Regions from separate parts of the Homo sapiens genome. Here regions 1, 2, 3, 5, 6 and 7 are each reported to be linked to region 4. Evidence: microRNA targets listed by miRTarBase, many of them from high-throughput screens and not tested one by one. Region 4 holds a microRNA gene; each other region holds the end of a gene's coding sequence.

What was found. Region 4 holds the annotated microRNA hsa-miR-124-3p (UAAGGCACGCGGUGAAUGCCAA, at 1,833-1,854, shown strand). A microRNA usually pairs through its seed, bases 2 to 8, with sites in the 3' UTR of a target mRNA and lowers its output. Matches are read on the target gene's strand: a 7mer-m8 pairs with bases 2 to 8, a 7mer-A1 pairs with bases 2 to 7 and ends in A, and an 8mer does both.
Region 1: the mRNA of PPP1R13L is a reported target of hsa-miR-124-3p. Seed matches in the 3' UTR shown: 7mer-A1 at 767-773 and 7mer-m8 at 1,049-1,055.
Region 2: miRTarBase lists FMOD as a target of hsa-miR-124-3p. Seed matches in the 3' UTR shown: 8mer at 2,204-2,211.
Region 3: miRTarBase lists ERF as a target of hsa-miR-124-3p. Seed matches in the 3' UTR shown: 7mer-A1 at 691-697.
Region 5: the mRNA of ATG4A is a reported target of hsa-miR-124-3p. The part of its 3' UTR that is shown has no 7-base or 8-base seed match.
Region 6: miRTarBase lists TPM1 as a target of hsa-miR-124-3p. Seed matches in the 3' UTR shown: 7mer-A1 at 611-617.
Region 7: the mRNA of FAM89A is a reported target of hsa-miR-124-3p. The part of its 3' UTR that is shown has no 7-base or 8-base seed match.

Annotation. Positions count from the first base shown.
Region 1 is chr19:45,377,692-45,380,767 of GRCh38, reverse strand. It overlaps PPP1R13L (protein phosphatase 1 regulatory subunit 13 like), which reads left to right. Exons shown (of 13, transcript NM_006663.4): 13 at 540-1,130. The coding sequence ends at 578. Among named protein-coding and RNA genes, the nearest start is that of ERCC2, 8.7 kb to the right of the region's middle.
Region 2 is chr1:203,339,608-203,342,689 of GRCh38, forward strand. FMOD (fibromodulin) reads right to left here. Exons shown (of 3, transcript NM_002023.5): 3 at 1,021-2,887. The coding sequence ends at 2,736. Among named protein-coding and RNA genes, the nearest start is that of FMOD, 10 kb to the right of the region's middle. RefSeq lists an enhancer at 2,784-3,082.
Region 3 is chr19:42,246,022-42,249,103 of GRCh38, reverse strand. ERF (ETS2 repressor factor) reads left to right here. Exons shown (of 4, transcript NM_006494.4): 4 at 1-1,535. The coding sequence ends at 639. Among named protein-coding and RNA genes, the nearest start is that of GSK3A, 5.0 kb to the right of the region's middle. RefSeq lists a silencer at 1,653-1,947.
Region 4 is chr20:63,176,720-63,179,801 of GRCh38, forward strand. It overlaps MIR124-3 (microRNA 124-3), which reads left to right and starts at 1,781; the gene lies at 1,781-1,867. RefSeq lists an enhancer at 1,028-1,988 and a silencer at 2,276-2,565.
Region 5 is chrX:108,153,179-108,156,260 of GRCh38, reverse strand. ATG4A (autophagy related 4A cysteine peptidase) reads right to left here. Exons shown (of 13, transcript NM_052936.5): 13 at 1,590-2,619. The coding sequence ends at 2,549. It overlaps COL4A6 (collagen type IV alpha 6 chain), which reads left to right. Exons shown (of 45, transcript NM_033641.4): 45 at 1-647. Among named protein-coding and RNA genes, the nearest start is that of ATG4A, 63 kb to the right of the region's middle.
Region 6 is chr15:63,065,402-63,068,483 of GRCh38, forward strand. TPM1 (tropomyosin 1) reads left to right here. Exons shown (of 10, transcript NM_001018005.2): 10 at 495-777. The coding sequence ends at 498. Among named protein-coding and RNA genes, the nearest start is that of TPM1-AS, 18 kb to the left of the region's middle.
Region 7 is chr1:231,017,183-231,020,264 of GRCh38, forward strand. It overlaps FAM89A (family with sequence similarity 89 member A), which reads right to left. Exons shown (of 2, transcript NM_198552.3): 2 at 1,776-2,944. The coding sequence ends at 2,681. MIR1182 (microRNA 1182) reads right to left here and starts at 2,742; the gene lies at 2,646-2,742.

The sequences.
Region 1 (3,076 bases), not on the chromosome of region 4:
GGCTCACTGCAGCCTCCACCTCCCGGATTCAAGTGATTCTCCTGCCTCAGCCTCCCAAGTAGCTGGGATTACGGGCATGCACCACCACGCCCAGCTAATTTTTTGTGTTTTTAGTAGAGACAGGGTCTCGTCATGTTGACCAGGCTTGTCTTGAACTCCTGAGCTCAGGTCATCCACCCACCTCGGCCTCCCAAACTGCTGGGATTATAGGTGTGACCCACTGCTCCCGGCCCTGAGAGAGGAGATTTTTTAAATATGGAGGTGGGACCCAAAAAGACAACCAAGGTGTTAGAGAGAGGTGGGCTTCTCCTTATGGCAGTTAGGAGACACTGGAAATATTCCATTTCATCAGTGGAGGCTCTGATTGGAAGGTTCCATCTGGTTCTTGGAGGTGACACAGAACTTGGATTCTGGAGCAGTTTGGGAGGTGCTGAGAGGTCCCCTTAGGAAGGGGTGGGAGGATAGAGACAGGCAGCGGATTTGCATGTGGGATGAGGAGGTGGGAGCTCCTGATGTCTGAAGATCCTGTCTCTCCCCAGCTGTTCCCCAGGGTGAAGCCTCAAAGGAGTAAAGTCTAGCAGGATAGAAGGAGGTTTCTGAGGCTGACAGAAACAAGCATTCCTGCCTTCCCTCCAGACCTCTCCCTCTGTTTTTTGCTGCCTTTATCTGCACCCCTCACCCTGCTGGTGGTGGTCCTTGCCACCGGTTCTCTGTTCTCCTGGAAGTCCAGGGAAGAAGGAGGGCCCCAGCCTTAAATTTAGTAATCTGCCTTAGCCTTGGGAGGTCTGGGAAGGGCTGGAAATCACTGGGGACAGGAAACCACTTCCTTTTGCCAAATCAGATCCCGTCCAAAGTGCCTCCCATGCCTACCACCATCATCACATCCCCCAGCAAGCCAGCCACCTGCCCAGCCGGGCCTGGGATGGGCCACCACACCACTGGATATTCCTGGGAGTCACTGCTGACACCATCTCTCCCAGCAGTCTTGGGGTCTGGGTGGGAAACATTGGTCTCTACCAGGATCCCTGCCCCACCTCTCCCCAATTAAGTGCCTTCACACAGCACTGGTTTAATGTTTATAAACAAAATAGAGAAACTTTCCTTATAAATAAAAGTAGTTTGCACAGAAATTGACTTTCTTCTCTTTTGATTCTGTTTTGACTCAATACATGCTCATCATTGTGGTTATGATTTTTGGCAAGGCAGTCTGAAAGTAGCCCTTTCTTCTTCTTCTTCTTTTTTTTTTTTTTTTTTTGATCTCACTCTAGTGCCCAGGCTGGGGCACGATAGCGCAATCTCAGCTCACTGCAACCTCTGCCTCCTGAGTTCAAGCGATTCTCCTGCCTCAGCCTCCCGAGTAGCTGGGATTACAGGCATCTGCCACCCCACCTGGCTAATTTTTGTATTTTCAGTAGAGACGGGGTTTCACCATGTTGGCCAGGCTGGTCTTGAACTCTTGACCTCAGGTGATCCACACACCTCGGCCTTCCAAAGTGCTGGGATTACAGGCCATTAGCCACCATGGCCAGCCTGAAAGTAGCCCTTTCTAAGGGATTCTTTTCACACAAGTCCAATCCTTTATTTTATATTTCGGATTCTTCTTTTGTGTCCTTTAGTTTCAAGTACATGCCTGATAATTCTATCACCTGAAGTTTGGAGGCAGCTAATCCTATAGTTTGTTGTGTCTGCTGGTTCTCACTCATGGTGGGCTGTTTCCTTGGGTGTTGAAATTGTAGGTTGAGAGGCCAGGCGCGGTGGCTCACGCCTGTAATTTCAGCACTTTGGGAGGTCAAGGCGGGTGGATCACTGGAGGCCAGGAGTTTAAGACCAGCCTGGCCAACATGGTGAAACCTCATCTCTACTAAAAAGCACAAAAATTAGCCTGGTGTGGTGGTAGGTGCCTGTAGTTCCAGCTACTTGGGAGGCTGAGGCAGGAGAATCTGTTAAACCCGGGAGGCGGAAGTTGTGGTGAGCCAAGATTGCACCATTGTACTCCAGCCTGGGCTACAAGAGCAAAATTCCCTCTCAAACAAACAAACAAAAATCTCTGCCAGCTTGGACAACATAGGGAGACCCTGTGTCGATCAAAAATAAAAAAATTAAGCCAGGTGTGTGGCTCACGCTTGTAATCCCAGCAATTTGGGAGGCTGAGGCAGATGGATCACCTGAGGTCAGGAGTTTGAGACCAGTCTGACCAATATGGTGAAACCTGGTGTCTACTAAAAATACAAAAATTAGCCCGCCGTGGTGGTGTGCACCTGTAGTCCCAGCTACTTGGGAGGCTGAGAAAGGAGAATCGCTTGAACCCGGGAGATGGAGGTTGCAGTAAACCGAGATCACGCTACTGCACTCCAGCCTGGGTGACAGAGCAAGACTCTGTCTGAAAAAAAAAAAAGAAAAAAAAAATTGCCGGGCGTGGTGCCTCACGCCTGTAATCCCAGCACTTTGGGAGGCCAAGGCAGGTGGATCACCTGAGGTCAGGAGTTCGAGACCAGCCTGACCAATATGATGAAACCCCGTCTCTACTAAAAATACAAAAATTAGCTGGGCGTGATGGCATGTACCTGTAATCCCAGCTACTCAGGAAGCTGAGACAGGAGAATCACTGGAATCCAGGAGGCAGAGGTTGCAGTGAGCTGAGATAGCACCATTGCACTCCAGCCCGGGCAACAAGAGCGAAACTCCGTCACAAAAATATAATAAATAAATAAATAATTAGCTGAGCGTGGTAATGTACACCTGAGGTCCCAGCTACTCAGGAAGCCAAGGTGGAAGGATCGCTTGAGCTCAGGAGGTAGAAGCTGCAGTAAGCTGTGATCACGCCACTGCATTCCAGCCTCTGCCACAGAATAGACTTTGTCTCAAAATAATTTTTATTTATTTTATTATTTTTATTTTTTTATTTTATTTTTATTTTTATTTATTATTTATTATTATTTTTTTTTTTTTGCGACGGAGTCTCGCTGTTTCGCCCAGGCCGGACTGCATTGGCACTATCTCGGCTCACTGCAAGCTCCGCCTCCTGGGTTCATGCCATTCTCCTGCCTCAGCCTCCCGAGTAGCTGGGGCTACAGGC
Region 2 (3,082 bases), not on the chromosome of region 4:
CTGGGTTTAGAAACAAGGGAAGCCTTGCAGCAGGGCTGGCTCCCATTCCTCTCCCTGCTCTGTCTTGGTTGGGATGCTCATGGGAGCTGCAAAGAAGCAAAAACGGAGAGGCAGAGGATTCCTCCTTATAGTTAGATAATTCCTGCCCTATGTGCCACATCTCTGTCTCCTCCACATGGCATCTTCCTGTACTGGAGATCCAAGGCAGAGGGGCCTTATCTGCTGTCCTTGAGGAGAGGACTGTGATTAGAGCTATGATTTCTTTCTGGTAGTTTCACACACTAGCATTCCTGCCTAACTCTCACGTCAGAGAAGTATAGTCAAATTAGTTTACTTTGGCTTAAGATGGAGTTGTAACATTTGCAACATGCTTGGTACAGAATTTAGTGCCCAATAACTATCAGTTGTTATTTCCCTATCAGAAAATAGTGGATTGTTCTGAAGGCACAAGCCTAGTCTGCCCTCCTAACTTATGCGACATTTGCTAAGCACCTATCACAACATCTGGCACTCAAAGGCTTTCACGATATGAACACAGGATGAATGAGAAAACAAATGGGGGGTAAAGGTTTGTTTTCCTCTTCCAGGGCCAACGGGCTTTGGCAGGCTTGGCTGCCCTCAGATCTGCACAGTTGCCACTAGAGGGCAGAAGCAGTTAAGACAACAATACCCAGGACTAGCCAGATCCCGAATTACCGGCTTTGCAAGAGAGGATGGTGGAAAGGGTTGAAAAAAAAACCCCAGTTATTCTATATCTCTTGGGGACCATATGGAAGGGAATGTGTAGAGAGGATTGAAGTTAGACTTAAAGAAGAACTTCCAGAACACAGTTTGCTAACTACAGCTTTTATACAAGTGACTTTTTTTTTTCATTTTTTTTTCCTCTTAGCTTCATCTGCCCGAACAGAATAGATGAGAAAGAGGGCTCATCAGTCCAAGGCCTGTGTGACCTGCGACCTCACCAGGTCCTCCTAAAGTAACCCTCCTGCAGTCTGCTTTAAATGACTCCACTCTTGTAGATGCAATCATAAAATAACTTTATTGGTCAGGTTAGCCACCACTCATGCTTTTCCTGTAATAAGGATCCTTTATAAAGGCATGATGGTGTTCACATGCAGATGCTTTCTGAAGAGCCCTGGGGCAGGGGGCAGCCTTGCCCCTCACATCGGAGCTCCTTTGTTGAAATGAGCTGGTTTGGCTTTTGTGGATTCCAGGTCTGGAGCCAAGAACGTAGTCCAAAGATCCCCTCTTCCCTTCTCAGGGAAGGTGCTTCAAAGCATACACAGTATCAGGGATGTGATGGCATCTGGGCAGAGCCTATACTTGGGCTAACTCTCCTCCAACAGTCCTTGCCCCTGACTGCCCAGATGGCTTTGTCCCAACCTTGCCCAAAGGGCAGGTGGGTTAAGCCCCAGGCAACATTACCTTTTGAAATGGGAAGAATTAAGTGCTCCCCAGCCAAACTATAAAGCAAAAGCCACCTTCACTAATGAGGATATAGCTCAGAGATGTGAAAGCAGAGGGTTGTATGCCCAGCACAGGCAAGATTTGGCTGCCTGGCCTGGGCTTCACGGACCCCAGCCAGAGCTGGTACTTTTTAACTATGGCCTTAGGACAAACCAGGTGAAACAGATTAACCACATCCTCCTTCTTTGGGCTAGCAAGTCCAGGGCTGCCTGGAGTCTGTCTCTACCATCAGGATATAGAATCTTCCTGCTTGGATAAAAGGAGAGGACAAACTGTGTTTCTCATACTTTAAAAACCATGTGGCCGCTACCTTTGTGGATAAAAACCCAGGTAGGATGCTGTTTGGAATGCAGAAAGTGCTGGGCAAGAATGGAACTACTGGGGCTGCTTTCTCAACTCAGCCAATTTGAGGTGTGTTTGGCCCATTGCAGATGCTGATGGTAAGCAAAGTCTGGCCTTTCCTCTTCTGAAGTCTTATCCACCTTCAAAGAGCTACCCAGCTGCCAAAATATAGCCCTATACATTGATCTAAGCCTGAGGTTGGCTGTCTCCTCCCACATCAGGTCATGAATATTATCATCATGCTGGTGACCTCCAATCTGGTGGCTTTCCAGGGGTGAGGTTAGGGAGGTATAGAAGTGACTCCTGGTGTCCTTTCACCCTCAGACACAGTGTGGGTTGTCTCCACAGGTTGCTGGGCAGATGCTCACATGCCTTGGGGTCTCCTGACTCTGCTTAAGGCACAGAAGAGGCATCTGTGGAGGAAAGTGGAGTGGGTGAAGTGGATTTCAGAAGAGGCAGCTGGGCAAGAGGTATATTTTGAGAAGCAACAAATGGGAGCCCAGAGTAACTGCACGACCAGCCCAGCACAGAGGGAGAGCTGTCAAGTGCTGCTCACAGACAGCCAGGGATTGTTAGAAAAGTATGGTTATATACTATTGCCCATGCCACTTTTGAAGTTCCATGACCTCAGATCATTGGGAAGAACTTAAGAGCCGTGAGATTTATGGGGTTGGAACATCCAGGGATCCTTCCATCTACCACCACTTCTGTCCCTGGAAAAGAGTGAGCTTCTGCCTATGTCCTCAGCAGAAGGCTGCCTGTCCCTGATCGCCCCCCCTAACCCCACCTACAGGAAAGAAGACTACAGAGGGTGCCCGTGGACTTCTGTCACATGGTCCATCCTGGACCTTCCAGCAAAAGCCAAACCAAACCATCAAGCCAAATGCCACGGGGGCTCTCCGCCCAGTACCCGGTGCCAGGGCTGCTCAGATCTCGATGAGGCTGGCAAGGCGCAGGCAGAGGGGCGCGTCGGCAGGCATGGCGCTGCGCTTGATCTCGTTCCCGTCCAGGCGCAGCACCTGCAGCTTGGAGAAGTTCACGACGTCCACCACGGTGCAGAAGCTGCTGATGGAGAACTCTGTGGGGACAAGAGGAGCACGGGTCAGGGAGAGAAGCCCAGATTACGAACCTGAAGCCACAGTGAGATTAGCCTTTGTGAAGCAGCTTAGATAAAGGGGTGGAAGTTGGGGATGGAGGGCAGATGTTTTCCAGGATTGGAGTCATACTTACTGGCGCCACTAGGGGCAGAACTAGGGACAGAGTGAGGACTGTG
Region 3 (3,082 bases), not on the chromosome of region 4:
CTGGTGGTGCCCCAGCCCCAGCGCCCTGACAAGTGCCCGCTGCCGCCCATGGCACCCGAGACCCCACCGGTCCCCTCCTCGGCCTCGTCATCCTCTTCTTCTTCTTCCTCCCCATTCAAGTTTAAGCTCCAGCCGCCCCCACTCGGACGCCGGCAGCGGGCAGCTGGGGAGAAGGCCGTAGCCGGTGCTGACAAGAGCGGTGGCAGTGCAGGCGGGCTGGCTGAGGGGGCAGGGGCGCTAGCCCCACCGCCCCCGCCACCACAGATCAAGGTGGAGCCCATCTCGGAAGGCGAGTCGGAGGAGGTAGAGGTGACTGACATCAGTGATGAGGATGAGGAAGACGGGGAGGTGTTCAAGACGCCCCGTGCCCCACCTGCACCCCCTAAGCCTGAGCCCGGCGAGGCACCCGGGGCATCCCAGTGCATGCCCCTCAAGCTACGCTTTAAGCGGCGCTGGAGTGAAGACTGTCGCCTCGAAGGGGGTGGGGGCCCCGCTGGGGGCTTTGAGGATGAGGGTGAGGACAAGAAGGTGCGTGGGGAGGGGCCTGGGGAGGCTGGGGGGCCCCTCACCCCAAGGCGGGTGAGCTCTGACCTCCAGCATGCCACGGCCCAGCTCTCCCTGGAGCACCGAGACTCCTGAGGGCTGTGGGCAGGGGACCTGTGTGCCCCGCACCCCCCATGCTTCTTTTGCTGCCTTAAGCCCCCTATGCCCTGGAGGTGAGGGCAGCTCTCTTGTCTCTTCCCTGCCTCCTCCCTTTTCCCTCCCCACATTTTGTATAAAACTTTAATTTCTTTTTTTTAAAAATGGTGGGGGTGGGTGGGTGCCCAGGGCTAGGGGCTATTCCCTGTCTCTGTGGGTTTCTAAGCTCTGGGCAAAGTGGTGGTAGGGGGAGGGAGGGGGAAGTTAAGGGGGTCACCTCCATTCTGGGGAATTTATATTTGAATTGAGGCTTTGGCCTTAACACCCAGGAACTTTTCTATTACAATCGCTTAGGAAGTAAAGCCTTGTCTCCCTCCCTGTTCTCTGCCTCTTGTACCCCTCTGACCCACCCGCTCTGCCCCACTCCCAGCCCTCCTCAGCCCCAGCCCTGCCTGCCCTGCCCCTCCAGGGGGCCATGAGTGCCTAGGTTTCTCATACCCCACAAGGTCACAGCAGGGGAGGGAGGGACAATTTTATAATGAACCAAAAATTCCATGTGTTGGGGGGTGGGGGGCGGAGGAGGGTGAGGGGTGCCGCCCATGGGCCACAAATCTCTACAAGTGCCTGCTATCCCTCTCCCACTCCCCACCCCAGCACCGGTCCAACCCCTTCATCCCCAGCTGCTCCTAGGACTGGCCCATGGGCAGGCGGGTGGGGGGATGGGAAGGGGGTGCCCTGAAACCAAACTGGAAGCCCCCTCTGCCTCCCAGCTGGGGCCTCTGGGGTGGGGTGGGGGGCTGTGGTCAAGCCTTATTCTGTATTGGGGACTGAGGGTGGGGGGAGTAGAGGGGCCGCTGGAGAATGTATTCAAAACAATAAAACTTTGGACCTTTGGATGCAGTGATCAATGTCCTAGGTGCTCGGTGCAGCCCCCTGAGGGCCACAGCTTTTGCTTGATTCTGAAGGAGGGGCCCCACCCTGGCTGCTAGTGGGTCTGTGGCCAGATCAGTATAGAGGGCCTAACCCTAATCAGAATGGGCCAAATCCAGGCCTGGGAAACCGTCTCCTGACCTCAGAGGCACATGAGCCCCAGAGCTTGATGATAGTGGTCTCAGGCATGCGCCGGCTTCATCAGACTGCTCCTCTGTTCCATGGGGACCTTGTCCTTGAAAGCTCTTCCCACTGTTTTTCACCACAACCCCACTGCCCTTGCTCTTCTGATTGCCTGGATGCCTTCCCACTTGTGGCTAGGAATTCTTCCCACACCCCAGGTCCCCAGTGAAGACCAGGAGCTCCCTTTTGCACTGCCCCTCGCACCCTGCCCACACCCCTCTCTTGTTGCTCTGAGTTCAGCTGGGAGTCCTTTGGAGAACAGCCTGTGGTGTCTCTTGAAATGTAGACCTTGCAAGGTAACTTGGTGATCTTCAGGTCCAGGTATGGGAACACCCCCAGCCAGCACACAGCCAAGGGACTGGCTCACTAGTCATCGATGCTGTTGACCTACTGTGTGTCCAATACTTAAGAGCTGCAGTGTTGTAGCTCCTTCAGTATCCAGTAAGGTAGGGGCAACCAGTGCTGCTAAGTGACTTGCCCAGGGCCCTGTGGCTGAGCCAGGACTTCAAAGCCCACGTTCTTTCAACAACTCCTGACTTTTCCTTCCTAACACCAAGATAGTTGGATCCAGATCAGGCTTTCAGGATCAGAGGATTTGAGATGAGCTCATAGAGCTAGAAGCTGAGATTGGAGAGCTTGAATCAGGGATGAAAGAATTAGGAGGAATAATCCAGGCTGGAAGTACCCTTAGAGACAAGTTCTGTCTCCACCATGCAGGTGAGGTGCCTGAGGCCCAGAAAGGGGAAGGGGTTTCCCCAAGGCCACACAGCTGCTAAGAGATGGAGTGGCAATTGAGGGCTTGTTGGACTGGCTTCGCCATGAAACTCCACCCTGTGCAACCCTGAGGGGGAAGAAACGTTGACTGGCAACTGCTACCCACTCGCATCTCATTTCATGCCAGCCAGGGTGGGTGGTCCCAGATGATGTCGGTTGGCAGGGAAGAGAGGATCCAGGGCTAGGATACTGGCAGGAAACCGAGGCTCCCGAGGCGGCCTGCGGGAAACTGCTCCCTCTCCTGGGTGATGTAAGTCATTCCCTGGGGTGGGGGCCACTGGGCTATTTCTGGAAGCTGGGATGAGACATGTCTCCTGGCAACATAGTTGCAGCTGAGTTGGTGGTGGTGGTGGGGTGATGGAGAAGGGGATGTTGTCACTCGGGAGGAGAGGACCCTAACTACTGGCCTCAGCCCCTGAACCCAGTGCCTTCAAAGCACCTCTAACCACATCTAATATGGAATCATAAGTGCTCAGCTCAGCTCCCTAACTGCTGTCCAGGTCAGACCACAGCCCTACCAGACAAGTTGCCCCAGATTCTGGCTGTGTAGGATGTC
Region 4 (3,082 bases):
CGCCGGCCTGCGCTCCTTGCAGTCTAAACAAAGGCCAGCGGGGGAGGCTCCGGACGGTGAGGCTTGGGGAAGCCACTGATCCCTGGCCCTAGAGGGCCAGATCGGGGGCGCCCCAAGGACCCTATCGAGCTGGCAGTGACTGCAGTCGGGCCGTGGAGTGTCGCCTGTGATTCCGTGGTCCCTACGGGCAAGAGCTCCCATCCCGGTCTGAAACTGTGAGAACCGCAAGCTCCGATGGGGGCGGGGAAGGACGACCTTTAATTCCCACCCCACTGTACGGAGCCCAGCAGGGCCATCCGCAGGAGGCCGGCGGGACCCTTGCCTTTCTCAGGACTGAGAGGCTTGGAGGACCGCGGTGTGAGCTGCGCGGCAGAGTGCGTTCTGCAGGCGCCAGACAGGAGACGCGAACCCGCGGTCAGGGCCCGAGTGCGGGTGCGTGTCTGCGGGTGCCGCTGGGCTGCGTGCCGGCGAGGCGTGCGCGTGGCGAGGCGTGCGCGTGGCGGGGTGTGGCTAGAGGTGTCAATGTGCAGCTGGAGGGGCTGCGCGCGTGGGTGCAGGAGGGCCATGTGAGGGGCTGGAGTGTGTGGGAGACAGGCGTTTCCTTGGGTCTCCGTGTGGCCGCCGGGCGCAGGGCACGGTCGAGGGCGCTCGATGGCTGAGTCCGCGTGAGCCGAGGAGCGCGCGGGGCGGGACGCGGTGCGAATGCGCGGGAGGCACGAGGCGCGCAGTGCGTGTGTGCGCGTGTGCGCGGCGCGCGTGCCCCGCAGTTCTCAAGGACACCTCGGGGAGGCAGCGGCGGGGCCGGTGTCCGGGTGACGTCACCGCGCGCCCCAGTGATAATCGGCCGGTGCCGGAGCGGAGCGCGGATACGCGCGGAGGCAACGGCGACGGCGGCGGCGGCGGCGGGCGCGGGGACAGTTGCATCGGGGCCGGGCCGGGCTAGCAGGAGCTGGGCGCCTGCAGCGTGGACCCCGTGGACACTCGGCTCGCAGCCGGCCTGCGGCGCTCGGGGACTTGCCTGGCTCCCTTCTCGGGGTTCCCGCGCCCTTCTCCGCCCAGGGCAGCAGCGCGCGGGGCCCCCGGGAGCCGAAGAGCAGGCGGGAACTGGCGGCGGCGCGGGAGGCGCAGGGAGCGGAGGCGGCAGCAGCGGCTCCCGCCGGGACTGGTAATTACGCTCGGGGCCGGGCCGGGGCGAGCCGGGCAAGCGGCCTCTCTGGGTCTCCCCGTCTTTCTCTCCACGAACAGCTCGAGCGCCTTCTCGCGGGCCCGCTGCGCGCGGAGAGGACGAGCTCGCTGGGTTGTAAAAAGAGACGAGTTTTCATCTTTGAGCATCGAGATTCGTTCTTTTAACCGCATTCGGTGCGCGCTCCTGGGTCGGCACGGGCAGGGCGACGGCAGGGGAAGGCAGCTGCGGAGGAGCTCGCGCCGCCCAGTCGGAGCGGTTCTGCGCCCCTCGGAGCCCCGCGGGAGGCGGCCGGGTGCGCACGCGCTCACCACCCCCACCCCCGGAATCCGTCTTCGCGATTCCCGGGCGCCCCAGCTCCAGGAACGCCCGGAGGGACGCACTTGGGGGCCCACTCTCTGCCGCGGAAAGGGGAGAAGTGTGGGCTCCTCCGAGTCGGGGGCGGACTGGGACAGCACAGTCGGCTGAGCGCAGCGCCCCCGCCCTGCCCGCCACGCGGCGAAGACGCCTGAGCGTTCGCGCCCCTCGGGCGAGGACCCCACGCAAGCCCGAGCCGGTCCCGACCCTGGCCCCGACGCTCGCCGCCCGCCCCAGCCCTGAGGGCCCCTCTGCGTGTTCACAGCGGACCTTGATTTAATGTCTATACAATTAAGGCACGCGGTGAATGCCAAGAGAGGCGCCTCCGCCGCTCCTTTCTCATGGAAATGGCCCGCGAGCCCGTCCGGCCCAGCGCCCCTCCCGCGGGAGGAAGGCGAGCCCGGCCCCCGGCGGCCATTCGCGCCGCGGACAAATCCGGCGAACAATGCGCCCGCCCAGAGTGCGGCCCAGCTGCCGGGCCGGGGATCTGGCCGCGGGACACAAAGGGGCCCGCACGCCTCTGGCGTCGCGGGGCGGGTGGGGGCGGCCGAGGGCGGCCGAGGGGGGAGCCTGCGGCCGGGGCCAGGCTGCGGCCAGCCGGCCCCCGGCCACGTGTGTCCGCAGCGCGGAGCGCCCAGGCGCCCGCAGAGGGCGGCGGGGCCCGGGAGACAAAGGGAGGGTCCACGGGGAGCGGCGGGCGGGTGCGTGGGGCGGCGGGCTAGGGTGCGGCGCTGTCCGCGGTGCTGGCGGCGGGGCGGCCCCCGCGGGACGGGAGGGCGGCCAAGTGCGGCCCTCGCCCCCACAGCGGGCGCCCTGGACAGTTGCCACGGCAACGTGGGAGGAGGTGGGGCAGGGTCTGAGGTCACCGCTAAGTCTGCCCTTCCTCGGGCCGCTGCGCCGCGGGGCGGGGCGGAGGCGGCGCTCGCTGTGGCCCCAGAGCAGCCCCCGCAGCCCAGGACCAGGCTTGCATGGGGACGGGGGTCTGCGTCCGCGTCCAGGGTCCAAACGAGGGCGGTGGACACGCCGGACCGCATCCCGCCCCCAAAGCCGGCTCTGGGCTGTGCAGGACCAGGCACGTGAGACTCCGCAGCCCAGGGAGAAAATGACAAATCCCTCCCCCGCCGCCATCTGCAGCCGCAGTGACACCCACTCGGGTTTGCTGCAGGGGTTTTTTTTCTGTCCCCGGAAGCCAGCGCCACCTGCTGACGCCCGGCACCGCCTCTGCGCCGCCTCCCCCGCGCCCATCCCAGGCCCCGGCTGGGCTGTGATGCCCCGGTAACAGTCAGAGGACGACCCCCTCCCCAAAAGCCCCCTTCCCCTGGGGCGAGTGCCAGACCTGGCTTTGCAGCTTTGCCTCTTTCCTCTTAACCAGGTAGAGGCTGAGCCTCTCCTCCCCGGCTTCAATCCGAGGCAGGAGTCTGAGTCACCTGAAGTTCTCCCAGCTCCAGGCCCAAGGCAGGGAGCAGAAGATCAGGATAAAAGGAACCATTTGAGTTTCAGGCAGTGGCATCTCCACCCCCACCACCGCCGCTGCAGGGCCAC
Region 5 (3,082 bases), not on the chromosome of region 4:
AGAGGATGCAACAAATGTGGCCAAGCCTATCAAAGGAAATGAGAATGACAGCCTTTTTTCCTGGGCCAGAAGTAGAGGGGTGGGTGCGTAAGGATGTGTGAGTTTTGCTTTTGACTCCAGGAACAAAAAGGTAAATCCCACATCCCAGTTTCTCAGAAGTCCCTGTTTATTCCAAATGCCATCCAGATGTGTGCAATGTGGCAAACTGAAGCTGCACAGTGTTGGTTTCCTTGTATTCTGAGGATGTTAAAGACTTTGTTAAATGGTTATCCAATTGCTCTTTCACAGGTAGCCTATTAAACTATTTTAATATGTTTTTTTAAACCTCATAAAAATCTAGCACACTCTTCTCTTGAGCAGTTAGCAGACCTAAAGCAAGCCTGAATTGGCTATGCAGTACATTGTATTCTGTTTGGGGGAATTTGTTTTAGCCATTTTCTTTAATTACCAGTTTTCCAGAACACTCTTAGCTATGTTGACATGAGGCAGTTCCTTCCAGGTGATTCTGTTTCCTTAAGTATTATATAAACTGTGCCAATACAGACAAAGCATAATCAATATAATCTGAATTATTGTTATCTTTACCTCCTGAGTAATAAGCATGGTGTCAGTTTTGTACATAGCAAATAAAATAAATGAAATCTGAACATGTGACTCTTTTGATGTTCCTTTATGAAAACTTTTCTAATGTCCATCTCACTGCAATTTATGAGTCCCTCTCAGAGCCTGAGAGGTTTCTGCTACTGCCAAGTCGAACTCTGTAACAAAACACTGAGGCAGGAAAAAATTAGAAGATGATCAAAGTCAAAGAGCTGAAACAGTCCTCTAACAAACAGTCAACAAACCCATAAGCTGCTTCAAGATAAGCCTATGCCTGCTTTTATCCCTGTCACACGCTAGAGTTCAACATATCAAAGCATGATGTAGGTTGATAAAAATAAATAAATTTTTTGAATAAAAAAAGAGTTCAAGAAAGGCATTTTCATACTTCTGTGGCCTTAGGATCATTTGTAGATAAAACAAAAGTAGAGAATGTTAAAGTCATTAAAATCAAATCCAAGCTGTGTGTGTATGAGTGTGTGTGTGTATATGTGTGTGTGTGTGTGCATATATTTATATATGTATAAAATATATCCTCTGAGAGGATAAACAAGAAATTAATACCATTGGGAATTTCCAAGGGAGGGAACTGACCTATCGGAGAGAGAGACAAGTCACTGAATATCATTTTACATCTTTTGAATTTTGAACCATTGGAATATACGGGGGGAAAAAGAAAAACATGGAATCTAAGGAAACAAGCAGATTGGTTTGGTGCTAGCTTCCAGTTGCTGGCCTTCCTCGGGACTTGATTAAGGATGGGGGTGAAATGCAGGCAAGTTAAGGAAGCAAGAAAAGGAAAATGAGAAGGTACTGCTGGGGCTTGAGGTTCATCCTCACAGGAAAGTGGTTAGCAAAGCTAATTTGATGAATACATGCTTTAAAACCTATTATGTTGCTAGCCTCAAATGGTTTGGAATTGTATATGATGCACAGATAAAATGTGTAATTCACCACATGAATAATTCTAAATATGGCTGTCAACCAAGTAGGGTATACTTCAAACACAATTTATTTTTAATTTATCAAACAAAAATCAACAATTTAAGTCACTGATTGGCAAGCTACAGCCTGCAGGCCAAACCCAGCCCTCCACCTGCTTTTGTAAATAAAGTTTTCTTGGATTACAGCCACACTCATTTACACGCATATTGTCTATTGCTGCTTTTGCATGTCAACAGCAGAGTTGAGTAGATGTGACAGAGGCCGCATGGCCTGCAAAGCCCAAAATATTTCCCGTCTGGCCCTTTACAGAAAAAGTTTGCTGACCCCTGATTTAAGTGATCATGATTTAAGGACAGGGTGATATCTGACAAAAGTATCAGTAAGAATGGGGACAGTGACCCATCAAATAGTAAGATCCCCGCAAACAGAAGGGAGATCAAGAAGTGTATATTTGACATCGTTTCTTTGACAAACGTTTTGATATAAATTATAATTACTTCAACTACACAATCAAATAATTTAACAAGAACCTTTTCCTCCCTGATTCAGTCACTTTATTATTTGAGCAAGAGAACAGATTGCTGCTTAGTCCAAAAGAGGTCACATCTGAAAGGGTGAAGAACAGCTTAACCATCTCTTATCTGCTGGTTCTTGAAGCAAGCTGAGAGTTGCTGTTTGTCTTCCAGATGCCCATTTCCTCATTGCAGCAGCTGAAGACTTGCTGTAGCCATATAACACAAGCTGGGAAGCAATGAACTCCTCCTCATCTCTCTGCTCCTAGGCTCCATGATTGTTCTATTTCTTTCCGGGGAAGGGTTACTGTCATTTGTTTTGTTTTGTTTTGTTTTTCTGAGAAACAGTGATTGGCTCAGTCATGATTGCTATTGAGTTTGTATGCTATTGGCATATCAGGCACTTGCTGACTAGAAAAGTTTTATGCAATAAGTTCATGTTTTTATGGTGCCAGATGGAAGACAGACCTTCAAGTTGAGTTCCCAGGATTCTACACACTCAGAATCTCAAAATCTTCCTCCAGATCAAACTCCTCCAGTTGCTCAGTAGAGTCAATGAATTCTATCAGAATACGGAAATGAGAAAGAAGAAAAGCTTGACACTTGGGTTGAAGTGGTCAGTAAATACTTTACTCAGTAGTTAAGACTAAGCATTTTTAATTGCTGTACTAAAGAAAGACTTGTGTGGAGGAGACTTACAATTAGAACTACTGCCAAGTATTAGAAATTATCTATAAAGACTCAAAATAGCCAGACTTGTTACATAAACCTAACGACGGTGATGTGGCCAAGGCTCTGAAAGCCCTTCAAGATACCTTTGAATTATCGATGGCCTCAATTTGCTATTCTGAACCAGACCATGAAAAAGCAATCCTAGTCATCTTGATTTTGCATAGAACTTTTGCAATGAGCTCATTTTCTTCTATTATCATTCTTTGAAATTGGTAAATATCAGCTCATCAGAAGATTAAAATAACCAGAAGTGCCATTTTTTTATCACTCCAGCTGAGTAGAAATTTTACTGT
Region 6 (3,082 bases), not on the chromosome of region 4:
AGTGGCATGTGCCTGCTGCCTTAGAGGTTATAGAATCCCCACAGTCAACAAAAAAGCCTCTAGAGACATGACTGTTGCCATGGAAACCAGAGAAAATGTGTCTTCTCATCCCTCATTTGTAAATGAGGGGGTGGAGCAGATCATCTGTCTCTAAGGTCTTTTTCAGTGCTAAAATGTGGTGATTCTTTGGGAAAAACTTTTTGCATCAAGTATGATTAAATATTCTGAAAGACGAGTGTAGCTTAAAATTTTTTTTGTTTTTAAATTCTGTTCATGGGTCTTCTTAAAATGGACCCTTGCCGAAAGGCGGCCTGTGACGGCCTCAGGTGGGAAGATGGATGTCCTTCCAAGGGTGTGGCTGGCAGTGGGGTTTGCATGACTGCTTCTTGTCTGTGTTTCAAGTGCTCTCATCTATTGGTTTGGTTTCCTTTCTTTTTTTTTTTTTTCTCATTGTGCCACTTTTTTTTTCCTCCCACCTTTTTATCTTCACGCAGATAAGTTTCTTTGCTTCACTTCTCCCAAGACTCCCTCGTCGAGCTGGATGTCCCACCTCTCTGAGCTCTGCATTTGTCTATTCTCCAGCTGACCCTGGTTCTCTCTCTTAGCATCCTGCCTTAGAGCCAGGCACACACTGTGCTTTCTATTGTACAGAAGCTCTTCGTTTCAGTGTCAAATAAACACTGTGTAAGCTATTTCTGTTTGCTATTCTTTTTACTTCTTATTTATTGACATTTTAGTTTCAACATTGAATAAAACTACAAAGCTGCTTCACACATATGAGGGTTAGTGTTTGGCTGCTGCTTTTTCTTTTTAAATACTGAACACTATACAGAATTATATCAGGAGTTTCTAAAGCAGTAGTTCCTTGTTGAACTTCAAAAAAATACCCAGGCCTGCATTCCCTCTCAGAGTTCTGATTTTCAAAGGTTAGAATGAGGTCTGGACATCTGGGGGGGTTTTGGGGGAATTGTGATGGCTCTGCTTTGCAGTCTGGGTCACACAGGGGACATTGCTTGTTGAGAGTTGAAAGGTCTGGCTTGATCAGTGTCTTCCTTTGCTGGAGGTTTAGCTCGGGATGTAGTGACCCCTCTGTGTTGATTATTTCGGTGGCCTTACTTGGGAGGACCTGGCTAACTAATGAAAGGCTCATGATGAATGGTTCTGTAGCTGTCCCATATTACTAGGAAGTTATACATTGAGAAGGGTGAAAAAGAACTTGGATTCAAACAATGTAAGTTTTGGTTATTGTCGATCATCCTTTTATAGCACAAAGAAAAGTTCAAGCTTTTTTGAAGTATATTCATGACTCAGCCACCTTTATTTTGATCATGAAAATGACATCTTAGGTTTTCTAAATATGATTACTCTGTTTAGTCGTGATTTGTTTTGTGCTTTTTAGCACATACTCTTTGGGAGGGATTGTACATAATCTTTGTGTTCAATGGCTGTGTTTTCATTTGTGGACATTTTTAAAATATAGCAATGAAAGTTTCTTTTTTTTTTTCCCAAAAAGATAGTTGGTGGAAATTGTTCAGAAGACAATTGTATTTCATTTGGGCTTCTGTTTTATTTCACAAACAGCAATTAAGTGATTTTTTTAAAAAAATACATTGCAAAAAATAGAACTTTAACTAATATGGACTTTAGTGTTATAATTCCCAACATTTCTCCTTCCTCAACAATCTAGCTATATATTTCTCCTGTTTTTTTTTTAACATGGATGATCTGCATGTTTTGTATATAGTTTTTTTAGCCCGAGAGGGCTGATATACCACCATACTCAAATAAATTTGGACAAACTCAGAAGATAGTGTCATTCTCACTCTACAGAGACTTCAAAGCATAGAGGAAATACTTTTTTTTAAAGAAAGCTGTGAATTAAAGTATTTTAGTCATAGTATGGTGGAATTTTAGAATCTGGACAATGTCTCTCCCTTGAGTTTATAAAGACTTCCATGATTTCATGCTTTTCTTTTCTTAAGGCTCCTTGGGCCTGCTTCTGACTATGATTCCTTCCTCATTCTTTTTTAAATTCAGAATAAGAGAAGTGTACCCTTCTCTGAGTAAATCCTGCTTCCTGATGTAGACAAAATGCCAAGTCTGAAAGTTCTGCTGAGCAGATGTTCATGTAATTCTGGAGGCACATCTGTGTTTTGGAAATCCTTCCAGAGACTTTCGCACTTTCTATAAGTACACTCTACAAGGGGAAGTGGGGCACTAATGGACTGGGAGGGCAGGTCAGGAGTAGCCCAAGGTATGCATGTGCAAGAGGAAAACTTGATAAACTCAAGTTTATCAAGAAATTGTTGATTTCTTGTTCAACTGTTGATTTGAACCAGGCTTCTGGTTCAAAGGGCCAGGCCATAGCTACAGCTGCTCTGGTGGGCCAAACCAAAAGCATCACTGAGTTTGGGCACTTGAAGTTTCAGACAGCTGGGAGTCTCCATAGAACCGGAAGGGAAAACACTTCCAAGGATATGAGCATGTCTTGTCCCTGCCTTTGGGCCACCCATGCACACCAGCTCCACAGCAGCTGAAGCAGAGCAGATCCAGAGGAGGCTGTCGGAGGGACCACTGTCCTTCCTGCTGAATTCATACTGACCCTCTGGATTCTCCAGATTTTCTCCAAAGTTCTTCCATTCTAGCCTGGCCAAACATTTGGGCTCAGCAAACTGAGACAAGCTCCCCACCCATGGCGACACTTCCTATGTCCATAGTGTGAATGTAGTAATGGGATATATGTCTTGGAACCCCCAAGCATATGTCACGTGCAAAACACCGTGGGAAGCAGTGGGGGTGTGGTAAAGAGATGGGCTGGAAAGGCTCTTTGTCCTCAATAAGCTGGGCATCTGATGGGGAGATAGAGGAGTGAAGCGAGTCCGAACTAATAGGCATGTGTATTTGGAGGCAACAAGGAAGAGAGAACCATTCTGACTGGGAGCTCCCTGGAGGAGGTAGCGGACGTTTGACTGGGGTTTGGCATATTCAAAAAATGTGGATGAGCAAAGAGGACAGAGCAGCAGATATTCCAAGCGAGAAAACATAACGAGCATAGCATCCTCCCATGTCCTACCATTTATAA
Region 7 (3,082 bases), not on the chromosome of region 4:
AGTGAGATGAAAGCCCCAAAACTCAAAAGCACAATGAATCACTGCAGTTCCAGAACAGCCTAGAGGCAGCAACCCAGGGAAGGGAGCCATTCTGAACCATGAGTTCCCCCAAGCCTGAACTTGTCCTTCGAGCTTCACTCCCTTGCTATTGTTGACCCATTCTGAAAGGACTGGGGTCTCCTAATCATGCCCTGGGGCCCACTCTTCCGCAGTGCTGAAGGAGATCCTGGTAGCCCTCTATGGAGAGGTGGTCTCCAAGTGCTAGGCACTGGGCCGACAGAAAGCTGCTTCCCAAGCTTTGTGAAAGGAATCATCAGAGGCATCTTAAGAGGCAGGGGCTGATTCAGCAAGGCTGGGGTGCTTTGAGATTGTCCATGTCTGATCTACGCACCACGCTTTGAACACTATGTAGCTGAAGGACTGTATCTCAACATTTCTACACATTAGAATCACCTGGGAGGCTTCCTCGATCCATAGAGGCGCCCACGCCTCACTCCTACTTAAATCCAGACTAGGCATGCAGGGTGCTGGAGCCCAGGCATCAGTATTTTTCTTTTTTTTCTTTTTTTTGAGATGGAGTCTCACTCTGTCACCAGGCTAGAGTGCGGTGGCACGATCTCGGCTCACTGCAACTTCTGCCTCCTGGGTTCAAGTGATTCTCCTGCCTCAGCCTCCCGAGTAGCTGGAACTACAGGCACGCACCACCATGTCTGGCTAATTTTTGTATTTTTAGTAGAGACGGGGTTTCACAATGTTGGCCAGGATGGTCTCAATCCCCTGACCTTGTGATGTGCCTGCCTTGACCTCCCAAAGTGCTGGAATTACAGGCGTGGGCCACCGCGCCCAGCCCTAGGCATCAGTATTTTTCTAAACATTCCCCAGGTGATTCTTAAAGTGGCCAGGTTCAAGAACAGCTGATCTAAAGGTTCAACTCACTGTAAGCATGGAACAGCCTCAAAGGAACTTCCTGCAAGTGATCCAGACTTAACTCTGTTGGTCTTAACTGCTTTTAATTTTCTTGTCCCCACTGACCAGTTATGTGCTGAAGGCAATTAATTGCCACCTCTCATTTTAACTCCTTTCAACAGAGGAAATAAGCAGGCGTATTCCTCCTTCTCTGTATCTCACCCCAGTTCCTGACCCAGGGTGTACTTGACAGGTTAACACTTGGCGATGCATGACATTGAGGTGCCTTCCTCTCCCTAACCTGAAGGACGCTCTAGTGAGCAATTATCACACCAAAAGAAAGATGAAGGAGTCTGCAGCATTCAAAGACAGAAGAGCAGCCAGGCATGGTGGCTCACACTTGTAATCCCAGCACTTTGGGAGGCCGAGGCGGGTGGATCACGAGGTCAGGAGTTCAAGACCAGCTAGGACAACACAGTGAAACCCCATCTCCATTAAAAATACAAAAATCAGCTGGGCGTGGTGGCAGGCGCCTGTAATCCCAGCTACTCGGAAGGCTGAGGTGGGAGAATTGCTTAAACCCAGAGAGGCAGAGGTTGCAGGGAGCCAAGATCGTGCCACTGCACTCCAGCCTAGGCAGCAGAGCTAGACTCCGTCTCAAAGAAAAAAAAGAGCACTGAGAACCAGCTGTAAATGGTGATCTACTCTTGCTAAAACGATTCCTTAAGCTCAACAGAGTCAATCTTGTTTCAAATGCATTTAGTGGCAGAAAAACAAACTAATTTTCTTTCATTATTTGACTGGACTCAATGCATTCAAGTCATGAAAGTTGATGATTCCAAATTCAGAATAAAATAACACATGACACAGATAGTTTAGCATTTTATCCTCATTTTTAACCTACAAAGTGTAATGTTCTCATAAAGTATTTTAATAAATATATTAAGGCTTAAGGTAATTACTGGTTTGAGTGGCGGGTGGTTTGCTTTCTAGCACACTAGTTTACATTCGGAATCTTAAAAATGAAAACATTTGCCATCTTACAGTGAGTGATACATCACATTGGCTTGCCCCAGTTTTTGTGTTCTTTTTTTTTTTTTCACTATTCAACATGTCTTCGTATTATCTTCCTTCCTCTCGTATCTGATAGACAAAGAATGATATAAAATTTTGGTTGAAAAAAGCCAGTTGATTGGGATGACTAGAAATGTTAACTTTTTCAGTAAAAAGCTTTCACCGAATCACTGGGCAGTTAGTAATGCAGCTTACAAATAAATAAAGCTGAGGCGAGAGGTTTAAACAGCAAGAAAAGCTGCAGAGCATATTGAGGAAGGGAAGCAGTGAAATGGTGGTTTTAATACATCCCAAACTGGAAGCAAGAACCCTAACACAAAGAGGATTGGAATACTCTACCATCTGTAAGGAAGTAGCTAGCTACAAGCCACCTCACACAAAACACCCACTAAGGCCTTTCACCGAGATCCTCTTGTTATATTCTCATTATGAATCCCCAGCAGGTGCACCTCAATAAATAGGTGTGGAGGATACTGCTGAGGACCTCTAGGTCACCTAAGCAGAAACTGCTGCCATCAAAGCAGACTGCCACCATGCATCCGCGGAGAACTCCCTGCCTACAAATGAAACTGGTAGCGCTCATCCCCTGTGCCCGAGGACCGTCCACAACGGAGGTGCTTTCTTGCAAGAGAAGCAGCAAATGATGACAGCGTGTCCAGTAGGAAGGGCTTCCCAACAGTCACATCCCTCCCAAGACCCTCTAGATGGACTCCAGAATCCAGTCGCTGCTGGAGAGGGAGGAGACAGGCAGTGACAAGTCCCGAGGAGGGCCTCGGTCCCTCCTGTCGTGCAGGGAGTTCTGCTCCTGGAAATATTCCTCCTCTTCATCGAAGAAGCCGTTCTCCAGAGCGTAAGTGCAGTCTGGGCTGGAGGCTGCCTGGCATGCCCCCTTGTACTCCTGAATCGACTCGTAGAGGCTGTACAGTTGGCAGAGCAAGGACATGTCCAGCTGGCGGAGACCAACCTTGAGGGAAGGGGTGGGGAGGTAAAAAACGAGAAGTCAGCACTTGAGTTTAATTTCAGTGGAACACTCAGCCGGCGATCTGCGCCTGCCAGCACATTCCTTCCACACGGCGCATGATTCAGAGCATCACTCGGATGC